Linked DNA regions of Homo sapiens: region 2 is linked to region 1. A link means that fine-mapping ties the variant in region 1 to the expression of a gene that starts in the linked region. Tissue or cell type: caudate. Region 1 holds a variant in brackets; the other region holds the start of a gene. All regions are shown on one strand. Distances are between the middles of the regions.

What was found. PIP is the estimated chance that this variant, and not a neighbour inherited with it, causes the effect.
Region 2: it holds the start of RAPGEFL1, and the variant in region 1 is fine-mapped to the expression of RAPGEFL1 in caudate (GTEx, PIP 0.98).

What each region holds. Positions count from the first base shown.
Region 1 is chr17:40,074,504-40,082,604 of GRCh38, forward strand. THRA (thyroid hormone receptor alpha) reads left to right here. Exons shown (of 9, transcript NM_199334.5): 2 at 1-38; 3 at 2,368-2,435; 4 at 3,005-3,105. Among named protein-coding and RNA genes, the nearest start is that of THRA, 16 kb to the left of the region's middle. RefSeq lists enhancers at 281-1,136, 1,260-1,339. The variant T/A (reference allele first, on the strand shown) is at 4,456.
Region 2 is chr17:40,173,126-40,181,226 of GRCh38, forward strand. RAPGEFL1 (Rap guanine nucleotide exchange factor like 1) reads left to right here and starts at 4,345. Exons shown (of 15, transcript NM_016339.6): 1 at 4,345-5,256. The coding sequence starts at 4,737. RefSeq lists enhancers at 3,224-3,724, 3,725-4,225, 4,617-5,473, 5,474-6,328 and a silencer at 4,257-4,386.

The DNA of each region.
Region 1 (8,101 bases):
AGCAAGGTGGAGTGTGGGTCAGACCCAGAGGAGAACAGGTAATGGGTTCAGCAACTAGGTCATGCCAACTCCTAAGCAGCAGGCATGGGCACCTGGCTGAGCTCTCCTTTAGGCACCGCCTTTAAGCACCTCTGTGGGATGGACGTGAGGCCAGCAAGCCTTCTGCCTACCTTTGTCTGGCAGATGAAGTCATGTTCAGATGTGACAGGCACTTGGATTGAGAGATGCTCATTTTGAAGCGGGGAGCGATACAGAGCAATTACAGGGAGCACATAAGGGGCTCTTCCCTAGACATTGCTGGGCAGTCTCAGATGCCCCCAACGTCCCTTCCACCATTGCTGCCCTTACCTTGAGCATGTGGGATCCAAACAGCCTTGCCATTTTCTTCCTCTCCCTACCAGCCCATTTACTATCTGACCACAAGTGTGTTGTCCACAAGCTGCGGTTCACGTAATACATTTCAGGGCACATGCACCAGTAACTATTGGTCATAGCCCAAGCTTATATTCGGAATCTATTGGGAGCCCCACAAGCTCTTCCTTGTTCATGGTCAAGGGCGGGCACTGCGATGGGGCTCCTCCCAGAAAGTGCACGCCAACCATGATGGTTTTGCTTCCACATGGGTGAGGTGTCAGCCCTGCACATACACCAAGGGATGGTTACCTGTGATCTGCATTGCCCTTGAGGAGCCCAGAGGGTCTCTGTCTTTTCTATCAGCTCCAAGTGGCACAGAGCTTTGTCCCAGTTGGCACGGTGCCCTGGGAGCTGGGTACAGCCTGTGCCTATGGCCAGGGAGAGGGTGGGGGTGGGGGTGCTCCGGGGAGCAGTGTGGCTGACTGTTGCCTAGGAGATCAGATCCCGAGCCAGGAAGCCAGAGGCCTGGCCAGGCAAAGCCCTAAGGCCCACAACTGGGTCCCTGGAGGGTAGAGGAAGTAGATGGAACTCACAGCTGGGCAGGGCATGGGGTAGCTCCCCTCCCCCAAAGCCTCACCCCAGGAAGGACTCTGAGGACGATCTGGCCTGTCGCTGTGTGGCTGTCACTTGCAGCCCCTGTGTCTCCCAGCTTAGGCTTCTGTGGGTCTGGAAGAGTCTGTGCTTAATGTTTGGAGAAAGGCAGGAATGCCAGTTCCCAGTCTCCTAAGACTGCAACCCCTCCCCCATCACCTTCCCCTCCCCCATGTCTATGCGCCACCTTGTGGCTATCTCTAGGACTACACTCAGAGGCTGTGAGTCTGGTGGTAACTGCTGAAGCCGCTAGCTCAACTGGGGCCTAGGTGGGCTGAGTTCCCCTGCACCCAACCCTCTGGGAGGCGTGAGGGAGACCTGACCTTTCAGCCTCATAGGAAGTAGACCGGAGTAATCCCCACGGGGCGTGGAGCATAGGGTTGTCTGTGACTGTGACCCTGGCCAAGGTCACTGTGTCAGTGTGTTGGGAGCTGCATCCGGCTCCAGGAGGAAGGGGCCTGCAACATGCCACACGCAGGGTGGGTGCGGGAGGTTATACAATCCTTGCATGCATGTAGAGGGCTTATGTAACCTGTGTGCACCGAGGTTATGCAACATGTATGTGGAGAGCCTGGCAACATATATGTGCAGTGGCTGAGGGTTGCTAATAATACGCTGCACAGAGGGGCTCAGTCCCGGCTCTGACTCTAGCTCATGGTGTCACCAGGCACAAGCAGGGTCTCAGTTTGCTGCTCTGTTAAATGGAGGCTGTGCAGAGGGTGTAGTGTTTTCTATTGCTGTGGGTTATTTAGCATGTGTGTATGACCTGGAGCTCAAGCAACACGTGCACACTGGAGGGATGAGGGTGGTTTTATGAGGTGCCTGTGCAGAGTGTTGTGTAACACATGGGCATATCCTAGAGGTTGTATAGCACATTTAAGAATGCCCTGAAAATTTCACAGGTATGTTGGCCCTGGTGCATACTCACCATCCATGGGTTTATAGTGAAGGTTGCATGGTTATTCATCTGTGCCGGTGTTATGTTGCATATGTATGTGTGTGTTCTAAAGGCTACATAGCTTTAAGCATATCCTGAGAATTCTTCCAGCGTATTCGTCATGTACTGAAAGATGAGGATGTCCTGCAGATTATGGGTGCTTCAGGTCTTCTGGCGGGTGAATGTGTGTGTGTTGGGGCTCTAGAATATGCTTGTGCCACAGCCAAGCCCCTTATCTCTCTCCCCTGCAACTTCCAGATAACTGGACCCTTTTAAGCATTGTCAGCTGACCCTGGGGGGTGGGAGGTAGAATGAGGACACAAAATGGAAAGAATCAGGCCTTGGGGGATTGCATAAGCCTCTCGGATGAGAAAGGGGCTACTCGAAGACTGCTCTGTGATTCTGCCCACTTTGCCTCCATCCAGTGCCAGGTCACCAGATGGAAAGCGAAAAAGAAAGAACGGCCAATGTTCCCTGAAAACCAGCATGTCAGGTGAGGCTGGCTGTGCGTGCCCCTTCTCCACGTCCCCAACCCCACCAAACCCAGCCAGGGCTCCTCTGGACCTGGATGTGGAACAGTAATTCATGTGTTCCCTGGGGGGAGCCTCCTAGAGGGCTTGGGATGGACTTGTCTGGGGGTGAGAAAGGTAATGTGGGATGTGCCCAGCTTTTGAGGGTGGATTAGGTCAGGACGGCCTCTTCCCTCTTCCCCTAATACCCTCATCTGAGGCCCTACCAGAATCAGGGCCTGAGCTGAAGGACTGAGGGGCTGTATTATCCCCAGTGAGCAGCTGACGTTTATTTTTCCCTCTCCACCATCCTCTGCCTTGTAGATAGATCAAGAAGAAAGCCCTGAATGGGCAGTCAGAAGAACTGAGATTCTTCATACTCTTAGGGCAGAGATGGACAGGTTCACCTCGTGTCTCTCTAGGATTCTACCAGGGAGGCTGGGCTAGGAGAGGGGTCAGAAACAAAAAGTTGAGGGATGGGGAAAAGTGTGAGAGCCTCTCTGCTGGGACTCCAAGCCATGCCTGCCTTCCTCCATCCTTTCCTTCCTCCCAGGGTATATCCCTAGTTACCTGGACAAAGACGAGCAGTGTGTCGTGTGTGGGGACAAGGCAACTGGTTATCACTACCGCTGTATCACTTGTGAGGGCTGCAAGGTATGGAAGCTACCTCCTGCCCCTCCCCTGCCACCTGAGCCCCCATATTACTCCCTATGTCACCTAAAGCCCGCCTGTTAGGTCATCACTTTTTTTTTTTTTCTTTGAGACGGAGTCTCACTCTTGTCCCCCAGGCTGGAGTGCAGTGGCGCGATCATGGCTCACTGCAACCTCCGCCTTCAGGTTCAAGTGATTCCCCTACCTCGGCCTCCTGAGTAGCTGGGATTACAGGTATGCACCTCCACACCCAGCTAGTTTTTTTGTATTTTTAGTAGAGACGGGGTTTCACTATGTGGCCAGGCTGGTCTCGAACTCCTGACCTCAGGTGACCACCCGTCTCAGCCTCCTGAAGTGCTGGGATTACAGGCATACCTGCCTGGTTACTTTCTCTTCTCTTCTCTTATTCATTCATTTACTCATTCATAACTCCTCCTCTGCCACTCACAGGAAAATTGCCTAACTTCTTCGAGCCTTAGTTTCAGTTTCTTCATCTATAAAATGAGGATAATCATTCTCTCTACCTTATAGCATTGTTGGGAGAATTAAATATGTTGGGAGATAGTTCACTTGAAGTGTTTAAAACAGTGCCATTGGGTGCTGTGGCTCATGCCTAAAATCCCAGCCCTTTGGGAGGGAGGCCAAGGCGGGAGCATCCCTTGATCCCAGGAGTTTGAGACCAGCCTAGCTAACACAGTGAGACACTGTCTCTACAAAATTAAAGAAATTAGCTGGGTGTGGTGCCACATGCCTGTGGTCCCAGCTACTCAGGAGGCTGAGGTGGGAGACTGCTTGAACCCAGAAGGTCAGGGCTGCATTGAACGGTGGTGGCGCCACTGCACTCCGGCCTGGGTGACAGAGCAAGATTCTGTCTCAAAGTAAAATAATAAAATAAAATAAAAAATAGTGCCATGTGCATAAGAAGCATTTGATAAATGCCAGCCATCACCCATTCATTCAGTGTATTCTTAGGTGTGAGAGTGTAGTACGTACCTCGCCTTCAAGCTGCTCACAGCCTGTCAGAGAGAGAGACACAACTTGAAACAAACATCAGTGTTATTCAAAATGTGGTTCATGGACCACCTGTCCTACTAGTTAAAATGCAGATTCCCAGCCTTCATCTTTTTTTTTTTTTTTTTTTTTTGAGATGGCATCTCGCTCTGTTGCCCAGGTTGGAGTGCAATGGTGTGATCTCGGCTCACTGCAACCTTCGCCTCCCGGGTTCAAGCGATTCTCCTGCTTCAGCCTCCTGAGTGGCTGGGACTACAGGCACCTGCCACCACGCCCAGCTAACTTTTATATTTTTAATAGAGACAGGGTTTCACCATGTTGACCAGGATGGTCTTGATCTCT[T/A]GACCTCGTGATCCGCCCGCCTTGGCCTCCCAAAGTGCTGGGGTTACAGGTGTGAGCCACTGCGCCCAGCCTGCCCAGGCTTCATCTTAACCCTGCTCACTCAGAGCCCTTTTGTGGAGCCCAGGAATCTTCCTTTTAACAGAATCCCGGAGTGTTTCCCATGCACCTGAAAGAGCGAGAGCCAGTACTGGGGGGGTAGTGGGAGCTGGGAGCACAGAGGAGAAGAGGACAGCAGGTTCTTCCAGGCAGAGGGGATGACAAGGTCATAGATTTTGGGAGGCCTAATTGTTTTGTTTTGTTTTTTTTGAGATGGAGTCTCGCTCTGTTGCCCAGCCTGGAGTGCAGTGGTGCAATCTTGGCTCACTGCAACCTCCACCTCTCGGGTTCAAGCAATTCTCCCTGCTTCAGCATTGGTAGCTGGGATTACAGACACCTGCCACCAAGCCTGGCTAATTTTTGTATTTTTAGTAGAGATAGGGTTTCACCATGTTAGCCAGGCTGGTCTCGAACTCCTGACCTCAGGTGATCTGCCTGCCTCTGCATCCCAAAGTGCTTAAGAGGCCTAATTAGATTTCACTTTGATCATTTCAGCCTGGATAGCCTTTCCAGGATCACCTCCTAAAAATGCAAGGCCTTCCAAGAAACAGAATTATTTAAATCCCAGCACTTTGGGAGTCCAAGGCAGGCAGATCACCTGAGGTTACCACACCCGGTGGCACTGTTTTAAACACTTCAAGTGAATTGTCTCATTTAATTCTCCCAACAGTGCTATAAGGTAGATAAAATGATTATCCCCATTTTATAGATGAAGAAACTGAGACTCAGAGAAGTTAGGCAATTTTCTTGTGAGTGACAGAGGAGGGATTATGAATGAGCAAATGAACGAATGAGTAAGGTCAGGAATTTGAGACCATCCTGGCCAACATGGTAAAAGCCTGTCTCTACTAAAAATACCAAAATTGGCCAGGTGTAGTGATGTACGCCTGTAATCCCACCTACTTGGGAGGCTGAGGCAGGAGAATCTCTTGAACTTGGGAGATGGAGGTTACAGTGAGAGTGGAGATTAAGTCAGTGTACTCCAGCCTGGGTGACAGAGCGACAGAGTGATACTCTGTCTCAAAATAAAAAAAAAAAGAAACAGAATGATTTATATGTTAAAGGCCAGGTATAGTAGCTCACGCCTGTAATCCAAACACTTTAGGAGGCCAAGGTGGGAGGATTGCTTGAGCCCAGGAGTTTAAGAACAGCCTGGGCAACATAGTGAGACCCTGTCCATACAAAAAAATTTTTAAAGTAGCCAGGCATGGTGGTGCACACACACCTGTGGTCCCAGCTACTCAGGCAGCTGAGGTAGGACGATCACTTGAGGCTGGGAGGTCGAAGCTGCTGTGAGCTGTGATTAAGCCATTGCACTCCAGCCTGGGCGACAGAACAAGACCCTGTCTTAAAAACAAAAAACAAACAAAAAAAAAAAACGGAAAAAAAGTTTAAGGCTTGAAGTTTCTCTCTCTTTCTTGATGTCAACCAAACCAAGACCATGAGGGATTTAGAGTTCCCTAGCAGAAGCAATACAATCCTTCTGGAAGCAATACAAACAGTGTAGCATAGAGAAAGGATCTTTTACTCTCACGGACATCTGAGTCCCAGGGAAGCACCCTGAAAAGACAGAGATGCCTTGGCCCCACCCTTGGATAGTTTTATTTTGTAGTTCTGGAGTGAGGCCCAGGAATCTGTATCTTTGGTAGGTGCCTTTGGTGACTTTTTTTTTTTTTTTTTTTTTTCAAGACGGAGTCTCACTCTGTCACCCAGGCTGGAGTGCAGTGGCGCGATCTTGGCTCACTGCAACCTCTGCCTCCCAGGTTCAAGCACTTGTCCTGCCTCAGCCTCCTGAGTAGCTGGGATTACAGGTGCCTGCCACCTCACCTGGCTAATTTTTTGTATTTTTAGTAGAGACAAGGTTTCACGATGTTGGCCACGTTGGTCTTGAACTCCTGACCTCGTGATCCACCCACCTCAGCCTCCCAAAGAGCTGGGATTACAGGCGTGAGCCACCGCACTCGGCTGCCTTTGGTGATTTTAATGCCCCTGGAATCTGAGAGCTCAGACGTTGGTGTCCCATACCTGAGGCCCAGTTCTGACTCTGCTGCCCACCGGCCACATGACTTTGGGCAAATTGCTTCATCTCACCAAGCTTCAGTTTCCTTGTCTGCAAAGTGGAGGCAGTAACAGTTCCTACCTCATAGGGTTGTCTGGAGGGTTCACTGTGATGTTCCATGAAAGACAAGGCTTATCTTTTGGGTTTTTGTTTTTGTTTGTAATGGGGTCTCTGTCACCCAGGTTGGAGTGCAGTGGTGCGATCATAGCTCACTGCAGCCTTGACCTCCTGGTCTCAAGCAATCCTAAGCAATCCTCCCACCTCAGCCTCCAGAGTAGCTGGGATTATAGGTGCACGCCACAACCCCTGGCCAATTTGTGTATTTTTAGTAGAGATGGGGTTTTGCTATGTTGGACAGGCTGGTCTTGATCTTGAACTCCTGGCCTCAAGTGATCTGCCTGCCTCAGCCTCCCAGAGTGCTGGGATTACAGGTGTGAGTCATTGCACCTGGCCAGCAAGGCTTATGTTTACTAAGTGACTGACACATTGTAAACATGAAAAAATACTAATTCTTCATATTATTGCAATCATCTTGAGTTTTGAGGTGTTTCCTTTAAAATAAAGGCGAGGCTGGGTGCGGTGGCTCACGCCTGTAATCCCAGCACTTTGGGAGGCCGAGGTGGGCAGATCACCTGAGGTCAGGAGTTCGAGACCAGCCTGGCCAACATGGTGAAACCCCATCTCTATAAAAATACAAAAATTAGCCGGGCGTAATGGTGGGCACCTGTAGTCCCAGCTACTCGGGAGGCTGAGGCAGGAGAATTGCTTGTACCTGGGAGGTGGAGGTTGCAGTAAGCTGAGATCACACCACTGCACTCCAGCCTGGGTGACAGAGTGAAACTTCATCTCAAAAAGAAAAAAAAAATTAAATTAAAAAAATAAAATAAAGGTGAATCCCAATGTAGAGAATTGAAATTTTTCTCTTCCCCTACTAGAGTTCATACTCAGTCCCTTTCCTTGACTTTTTTGGTTCCCCTGTTTTATGAATTCCACCTGCATGGACAACAGGCAACATATATGAGAATGGTTTTTGGGTCAGTGTTGTTTTTAAAGTCATTTAGCAAAATGGAAAATGAGGTTTTACTTGGATTTCCTTTTTTTTTTTTTTTTTTTTTTTTGAGACAGAGTTTTGCTCTTGTTGCCCAGACTAGAGTGCAATGGCACAATCTTGGCTCACCGCAACCTCTGCTTCCTGGGTTCAAGCAATTCTTCTGCCTCAGCCTCCCAAGTAGCTGGGATTACAGGCATGTGCCACCATTCCCGGCTAATTTTTTCTTTTTTTTTTCTTTTTTGAGATGAAGTCTCACTCTTGTCACCCAGGCTGGAGTGCAATGCGAGCTCCACCTCCTGGGTTCAAGCGATTCTCCTGCCTCAGCCTCCCGAGTAGCTGGGATTACAGGGGCAGGCCCAGCTAATTTTTATATTTTTAGTAGAGATGGGGTTTCACCATGTTGGCCAGGCTGGTCTTGAACTCCTGACTTCAGGCAGTCT
Region 2 (8,101 bases), 99 kb after region 1:
CTCCCAAGGCCAAGTCTGAGTCTGTGTTCTTAATGTCCTTGCCAGTGGCTCTCCACCCTACCAGATCCAAAGTCACTTTTTTTTTTTTTTCTGAGACGGTCTTGCCCGTCACCCAGGCTGGAATGCAGTAGCACAATCATAGGTTGCTGTAACTTGGAACTCCAAGGTTCAAGCAATCTTGCCACAGCTTCCCAAATAGCTGTGACTACAGGCCCACACCACCATGCCCAGCTAATTTTTGTGGTTTGTTTTTAGTAGAGACGAGGTCTCAGTGTGTTACCCAGGCTAGTCTGGAACGCCTTGGTTCAAATGATCCTCCTGTCTTAGCCTCCTAGAGTGCTGGGATTACATGTGCAAGCCACTACACCCAGCCCCAATGTTCCTTTCTTATAACAAATATTTTGCAACACTAATATCCCAAAGTGAAATGGACAGATAACATAACCTGCCTGGACACATGATTTCAAAAAACAAATCAACTGTGGGTCATAATTCAGTTTACCTAGTCCACTTGGCCTTTGATGCTTAGAGGGCAGTTCCTACCTTTGAAGTGACTTTTTCCTCTAGGTCCTGGGTGGGATGGAAGTTTACTACAGAAGCTATCTCTGGTATGGGAGAGCAACTTTCATATGGAGCTGGCAGCATTTGTTGGGTTTCACAAATCCATACACGGGAGGCATAGATATCATAGTACATCTTTTTTTTTTTTTTTTTTTTTTTTTTGGTCTTGCTCTATTGCCCAGGCTGGAGTGCAATGGCACAATCGTGGCTCACTGCAGCTTTGACCACCTGGGCTCAATCAATCCACCCACCTCAGCCTCTCAAGTAGCTGAAACCACAAGCATGCACCACCACACCTAGCTAATTTATTTTTGTAGAGATAGGGTCATTGAATTCCTGGGCTCAAGTGATCCCGCTGTCTGGGCTTCCCAAAGTGCTGGGATTACAGGCTTGAGCTGCTGTGCCCAACTATTGTACATCTTATAAAGACAGATGGGACTTCCCCCATATCTTGGTGCTGGTGCCACAGCCAGAGGACTGTGACTTTTCTGAGCCCCGTCCCTAATTCCTTTTTTTTTTTTAGACTGAGTCTCACTCTGTCGCCCAGGCTGGAGTGCAGTGGCACGATCTCGGCTCACCACAACCTCCACCTCCCGGGTTTAAGCGATTCTCCTGCCTCAGCCTCCCAAGTAGCTGGGGTTTACAGGCGCCCGCCACCATGCCCCACTACTTTTTTTCTGTATTTTTAGTAGAGATGGGGTTTCACCATGTTGGCCAGGCTGGTCTCAAATTCCTGGCCTCAGGTGATTGGCTCAGCTTGGCCTCCCAAAGTTCTGGGATTACAGGCGTGAGCCACCACGCTGGGCCCCTAATTCCTCTTTAAATCATGTCAGTTTGCTTCTCTTCCCCACAATGTGATGGGTGACTGTAGGCCTGATCTCCTGGGGTTATGAAAAAATGCCATCCAGCCTTGGGGGTGGGTTACTGGCAGGAGGTTTGAGTGTTGGATGCTTCCCCTTTACCCTTGCCTCTTGCTTCCCTAGTCCTTCAGTTAGACCCTATTGCTCTCTCTGTTGCCCTGGTAACCAGCTCTGCAAGAAGAAACTCAAGCTCAGCAAAGCCCCCAGGTTCTCTCTATCCTCCCAGCCTGCCTCTGGGTGGGCAGAAAGAAGAGGGTGTGTAAGCAGCAGACAGATAGCCTGAGGTGGCCCTGCCCAGTCCCCTTGTAGAAGCCCATGGGCTCAAAAAAAGCTCAAAGCTTTTTCGCCCCCATCTCATAGTTGTTATTCATACCACCCTGCCTTCCTCTTTATTTCTTCCATAAGCGGGTGCAAATGCTCTGCCAGCTCTCTTCCCCTTCAGGGTCAGCGCACAGACCTGCTACCTTGTAGGCAACTCGGAGCACCAAAGACTTGGAATTCCAAAGTCAGCTCCCAGCATCTGCAGCCCACTTGGGTTGACTGTCCGTCTAGGGCAGTGATTTTCAATCCTGGCCATTTGTGTCATGTGAGGAGCTTTTTAAAAAATACCATAAGCCTTCGCCCTGGTTCAGAAATCTGATTTAATTGGTCTGAGATATGGCCTAGGCATCAGTTTTTTTTTTGTTTGTTTGTTTTTTTTTTTTTTGAGACAGTCTTGCTCTTGTTGCCCAGGCTGGAGTGCAGTGGCATGATCTCGGCTCACTGCAGCCTCCACCTCCCGGGTTCAAGCGATTCTCCTGCCTCAGCCTCCTGAGTAGCTGAGATTACAGGCACCAGCCACCATGCCCAGCAAATGTTTGTATTTTTAGTAGAGACAGGGTTTCACTATGTTGGCCAGACTGGTCTCGAACTTCTGACCTCATGTTGCACCCTTCTCGGCCTCCCAAAGTACCGGGATTATAGGCGTGAGCTGTTGCACTTGGCCAGTATTTTTTTTTTTTTTTTAATATGGAGTCTCTCACCCAGGCTGGAGTGCAGTGGCATGATAACAGCTCACTGCAACCTTCACCTCCCAGGTTCAAGCAATCCTTCTACCTCAGCCTCCAAAGTAGCTTGGATTACAGGTGTGTGCCACCATGCCCGGCTAATTTTTTTTGTATTTTTAGAAGTGGGGTTTCACCATGTTGGTCAGGCTGGTCTTGAACTCATGACCTCAAGTGATCTGCCCGCCTTGGCTTCCCAAAGTGTTGAGATTACAGGCGTGAGCCACCAAGCCCAGCCAGCATCAGTATTTCTGAGAAGCTTCCCTGTGATTCCAGTGTGTAGTCAGGGTGAAAACCACTGCCACTCCAGGAGGACCATGACTTGATGCTGGCTCTCCTCACTGATTCAAAATGTTGAACTTAGTCTCTGCCTGACATCCTTGAGCATTTGGGGGAGTACTGGGGTCCTGTGTCCCAAGCTTCTAGCTTCCAGAAGTCTCTCAGTCTGTTTTATTTTCAACCCCCTACACCCTTCACACTCCCCAATTCGCCCTTCCTAACCAACAATTCCCAAATCCTGCCCAGAGAGAAGGTTACCAAGGCAACCGGCTTAATCTGGTAACTGTGGCATGTGCTGGGAGAGAAGCCCTTCCCTCTTCCTATTCAGTTCATAAAATGCTACCTGGGGAGCTCCAACCCATTCCAGCCACTTTCCCCTTTCAAGCCAGGGGATATTGGAGTGTCCAATAAGGGGAGCACAGGAAGCTGATACTCAGACCTCTAATACAGCTTCTTAGCCAAAATTGTGCGCTGTCTTCTTTTTACTGTTTCCAAATCCACAAACAGATGGGTGTGCAAAGCTTTATTTCTGTGAACACATGCTCTAGCACACATGGGAACAGATATGCACATACATTGATACGTATGTCATACACACCCTGTTCAGTTTTACTACCACTCCCAGCCATTAGCATTCCTGTCTCTGCCTGGTTGGTGCTCGGTAAACAGGGGTGGGGCATTGTCCAGAGAGCCTCAACCCATCGAGAACCTGCTGCCACTCCCACACCTTGTAAGTCTAACCTGGATGTTCTCACACTTAGCATGGCTTTACGATGCACCCCCCTCCTCCCCCACACTCCTTCTGGGGCAGCATATCCTTAAGGACAGAATGCTCCTGGTGTGGGCATCAGGAGTAAGGATTACTTGGAGTGCTAATTGGCACCACTTTTCCCACTCCATGGCCATGTACACTTGGGCTCTGTGCTTGATGATAGTCGGCAGTTCTGGGGCTTGTCACCTGTCTCCATGGCCCTGCTTCCTTCTGCTGCCAGCTGGGCTCAGGTGCCCTTGTGCTCCTGGTCTCCTCCCCACTGCCTATTATCCCCTCCTCACCCCAGCTAGACCTGCCACAACCTGCTGCTCCCTGCCTGGCTCCTACCTGCCTGCCAGTACCTGCCCACAGACCAGGCCCACACCACCTATTGTGCCCTACCAGAGAGGACAGATGGGCACCGCCTCCAGTGGCAATGCTAATTCACCCAAGAGGCCTTCCCAGCTCTTCTCACAGAAGGAAGATAAACTCCACATATTTCTGTGAGTATGAGAAAGGTGCACACTCTTGGGTTCAGCAATCTGTAGGCCTGACTTGGGTACACAGGTAGGTGAGTGAAGGTGTCCAGGCCACAGACCTGTCCTGACTCTTTGAAATGATGCTGAGACCCGGTTATCCCTTGAGCCAGGAATCCTTCCCCATTGGTAAATCTCTGACTTACCTTTGCCCTTAATTTCTTCTGCTTAGAACCCAAGTCCCTTACTGTTTCCCTCGCGGTCAACCCCAGCGCGCGAGTTCAAGCCTCGTGCGGCGCGGGGGCGAGCCGAGGAAGGGTAGGGGCGGGGACTGGGCGGGGACTGGAGGAGGGGGCGCGGTCTCGGTTCTGCCACCTTCCCCCTCTTCACGGCCAGGAGCGCAGCCGCCGCCGCCGCCGCCGCCGCGTCCTCTCAGCCTTGCGCTCCGCCCGCTGCCTCTGCCGCCGCAGCGCAGAGCCGGGCGCACCGGCCCCGCAGCCTGCCCACTCTTCGGGCCGCGTGCCGGCTGCAGCCGGCATGGGGGGTTGCTGAGAGCGAGCACTCCTTTCCTCTGGCACCTCCCCCGGCTACTGGCCACTGGACTCTGGCCAGCGAGGCTCGGCCCCTCTGGCCCCCAGTCTGGCGCCTGGCACGGCCCTCTACTCTGCTCCTCCAGCTCTGAGCATCGTGTCTTCGCCGCCCCCCCCGCCCGCGCCTGGGATACCTGGGTCCCCCGGCGACCCCTAGGAGAGGGGCGGGGGGGGGCATGAAGCCGCTGGAGAAATTTCTGAAGAAGCAGACGTCGCAGCTGGCGGGCCGAACGGTGGCGGGAGGTCCCGGCGGGGGTCTGGGGAGCTGCGGTGGGCCTGGAGGGGGTGGGGGACCCGGCGGGGGCGGCGGTCCAGCCGGGGGACAGCGGTCGTTGCAGCGGCGTCAGAGCGTGTCTCGCCTGCTGCTCCCCGCTTTCCTCCGGGAGCCCCCCGCCGAGCCGGGGCTGGAGCCGCCCCCTGAGGAGGAAGGAGGAGAGCCGGCGGGGGTCGCGGAGGAGCCGGGCAGCGGGGGGCCCTGCTGGCTGCAGCTGGAGGAGGTGCCGGGGCCCGGGCCTCTCGGGGGAGGGGGGCCCCTGCGCTCCCCTTCCTCCTACTCATCTGACGAGCTGTCCCCAGGCGAGCCCTTGACTTCGCCGCCCTGGGCCCCTCTGGGCGCCCCCGAGCGGCCCGAGCATCTTCTGAACCGGGTTCTGGAGCGGCTTGCTGGAGGGGCTACCAGGGACAGCGCCGCCTCAGGTAAGGAGCCGGTGGGCTCGAACACCCAGAGCAGGGGCTGGCCCCGGCTCCTCTTCCTTGCCCTTGGAGCGTAGGGGTGGCGCCGTGCCGGGGCTTGGTTATAGGGTTGAGTGGTCCGCGGAAGCCGGCTAGGGGCCTAGCGGAGGTACAGACCCTCCCGCGGAAGAGGAGAGCAGTACTCACCTTCCTCCCTACAGCAGCCTCACCCTCGTCTGGAGAAGCAGCTGAGCCTCTTACTCTCCTTCAGCCACCCTTCCTTTCCCCTGGGCATTGGAGCCACTGACTCCCATGGGTCCCTGATGTTGAATACCTCCTCCTGTGGCCCCAAATTAGGGCCTGACACATTAAAATGGGAGCTGCCCAGCGCAGCCATGCCACCCGCCAGAGGTGCTTTAGCCCTGAAAACCCTGGGGTCCCTGACTGTTCAGAGGCCTACACAGCGCAGGCTGACCCACCCAGGGAGGCAGTGCCAGACAGGCACAGGCCCCAAGCTGCCTTTTAGGCATCAGCAAAGGGATGCGTTGTCCTTAGCAGTTTGGTGGGGGGGATAGTATTCTCCTTGGGCTGGACTCAGAAGGTGTCTGGGAGGGGAGAGGTGGCTGGGCCGGCATCATGGCCCTGCAGCATCCAGGGTGTCCAAGCGCCTCCAGCTTCCACCCTTCGGTGGCAGGCCTCAGCACCCGGCTTTTTTTTTTTTTTCTTTTGGAGATGTAGTCTCACTGTCACCCAGGCTGGAGTGCAGTGGCGCCATCTCAGCTCACTGCAACCTCCACCGCCCAGGTTCAAGCGATTCTCCTGCCTCAGCCTCCTGAGTAGCTGGGACTACAGGCATGTGGCACCACGCCTGGCTAATTTTTGTATTTTTAGTAGAGACAGGGGTTTCACCGTGTTAGCCAGGATGGTCTCGAACTCCTGACCTCGTGATCCACCTGCCTTGGCCTCCCAAAGTGCTGGGATTACAGGCGTGAGCCACTGGCCTGGCTAATTTTTGTAGTTTTAGTAGAGACGGGGTTTCGGGGTTTCACCAACTTGGTCAGGCTGGTCTTGAACTCCTGACCTCGTTATCTACCTCCCCCCACCCCCACCCCACGGCCTCCCAAAGTGCTGGGATTACAGGCGTGAGCCACCGGACCTGGCACACGGCCTCTTTAAAATATAATCACCACACCCTGAGAAGCTTATTCCCTAAATGATGATACTATTTCACCACTCCCTTTCAGCACCCCTACTAAGGGGCCTTTGAGGAAACCAAGGCCCCAAATCTGGTTAGTTCTGAGGTAGAAGACCGAGGGTTCTTTAGGTCTAGCTCTAGGCATTACTCTAAGCCCAGGAGGGTCTGAGGTTTGGGAGCCCCGGCTGAGGCCCTAATGGTGAGGGCTTTCACACTTGCTCTCAGCCCTCGGCAGGGAACCCCAACCTAGATGTGTGGAGGGGGGCTCCACTCTCCTAGATCCTTCTCAAGACCTGGGTCCTCTCCTTTGGAGCAGGCTGTAGTTGCCCTGGGGAGCTGACACCTTTTGGATTTAATTAGAAAAATATCAGACACACACAGCTCTCCTAACCATAACTTCCCGCCTACACCACACACCCTGTGTCTCTATGACACATTCCCTAGGGAGGCTGTACATTGGCCCAGAGCCTGCTTTGGAAAAGACAGATGCCCAACTGTGGCCCCCATATCAGCATCTCCCCAACTCTGCCCCATCTTACTCTTCCTTTGCTCCAGCTTAGGAATCCTGTGAGATAAAGTCTATGAAGGATGTCAGGCCTCTCGTTTCCTCACCCTCATCCCTGAAGCTGGGGGTCAGAGCTGGAGGCTCTCTGACTCATTGTAAGAACACAGCAGGGTAGCTGGGCAGGGAGGAAAAGGGAGAAGCTGTCTTTCCCCTTTTACAGGGGCCTGGTGCCACACGCTCCGCTCATTCTCCCCTGGGGTAAGACTCCTGAAATGTCACCCATGTTATCTGGCAGCCTGGATCCCCAGAGTAACTAGTTTGGGAAATTCCAAACCAGTCCCAGGTGAATGAGAATCAGCTTAACCTGCCACTCTGATGTTCTCCAATAAAACCAATGTTCTCAAGTCATCCTGGTCTCCTCCCAGGGTGTGTGGGAGGAGAGAACTTACAGAAGTTACTCTGAACCTACCAAAGCCTCTCCAACGTCCAAGCAGCCCCCTCTGACCGCTAGGTTTTACCCTAACACTCTGCTTGCCTCAGGCATATTGAGAAAAGGACAAAGACTCAGGATTCTGGGTTCTTATTCCAGCTCCAGGCAAGTCCCTCCCAGCTCTGGGCCTCAGTTTCACATTTGCGAAATGAAATCCTTGAAGTCAATTACTTTGTGTTGGTTTTCCTCCTCCGCCTGCATGGCTAGAACTGACCACAGGAGATAGTGAACCAAGGGGAGTCAGAAGCCTTGGTTTTGTCCTGGGACAGTGCCTGGGGACCTGGCCCTAACCAGTCCTGGTGAGGACACCTGGCTCCCTCCCTGCACCTTGTCTGTCTGTGTGTGCCAGGTGGCCCTGCCCCACCCCAGGGCTGGCTGCAAGTCAGGGCGACCTTGTACCCGGCTGACTGGCTGAGCCAGGCCCAGACGGGGGTGTGGAGGGGAAAGGGGTGGTGAGAGGAGCCGCTCCCCTTCACCATTCCATCATTAACCCTTCTGTCTCTGGGCCCCTAAAGGACACAGGATTTCTATTTAAAGGTTCTGGGATCAAAGTGATGGCAGTCTCTCCATCTCCCTTTTAATCAGGCTGGTTCCCACCTGCCTAGTTAGAACTCAAAGCTGTTAGGTGGGAAATGGGGAGGGGAAGAGGGATACACACACATGCACACACACAGTCCCC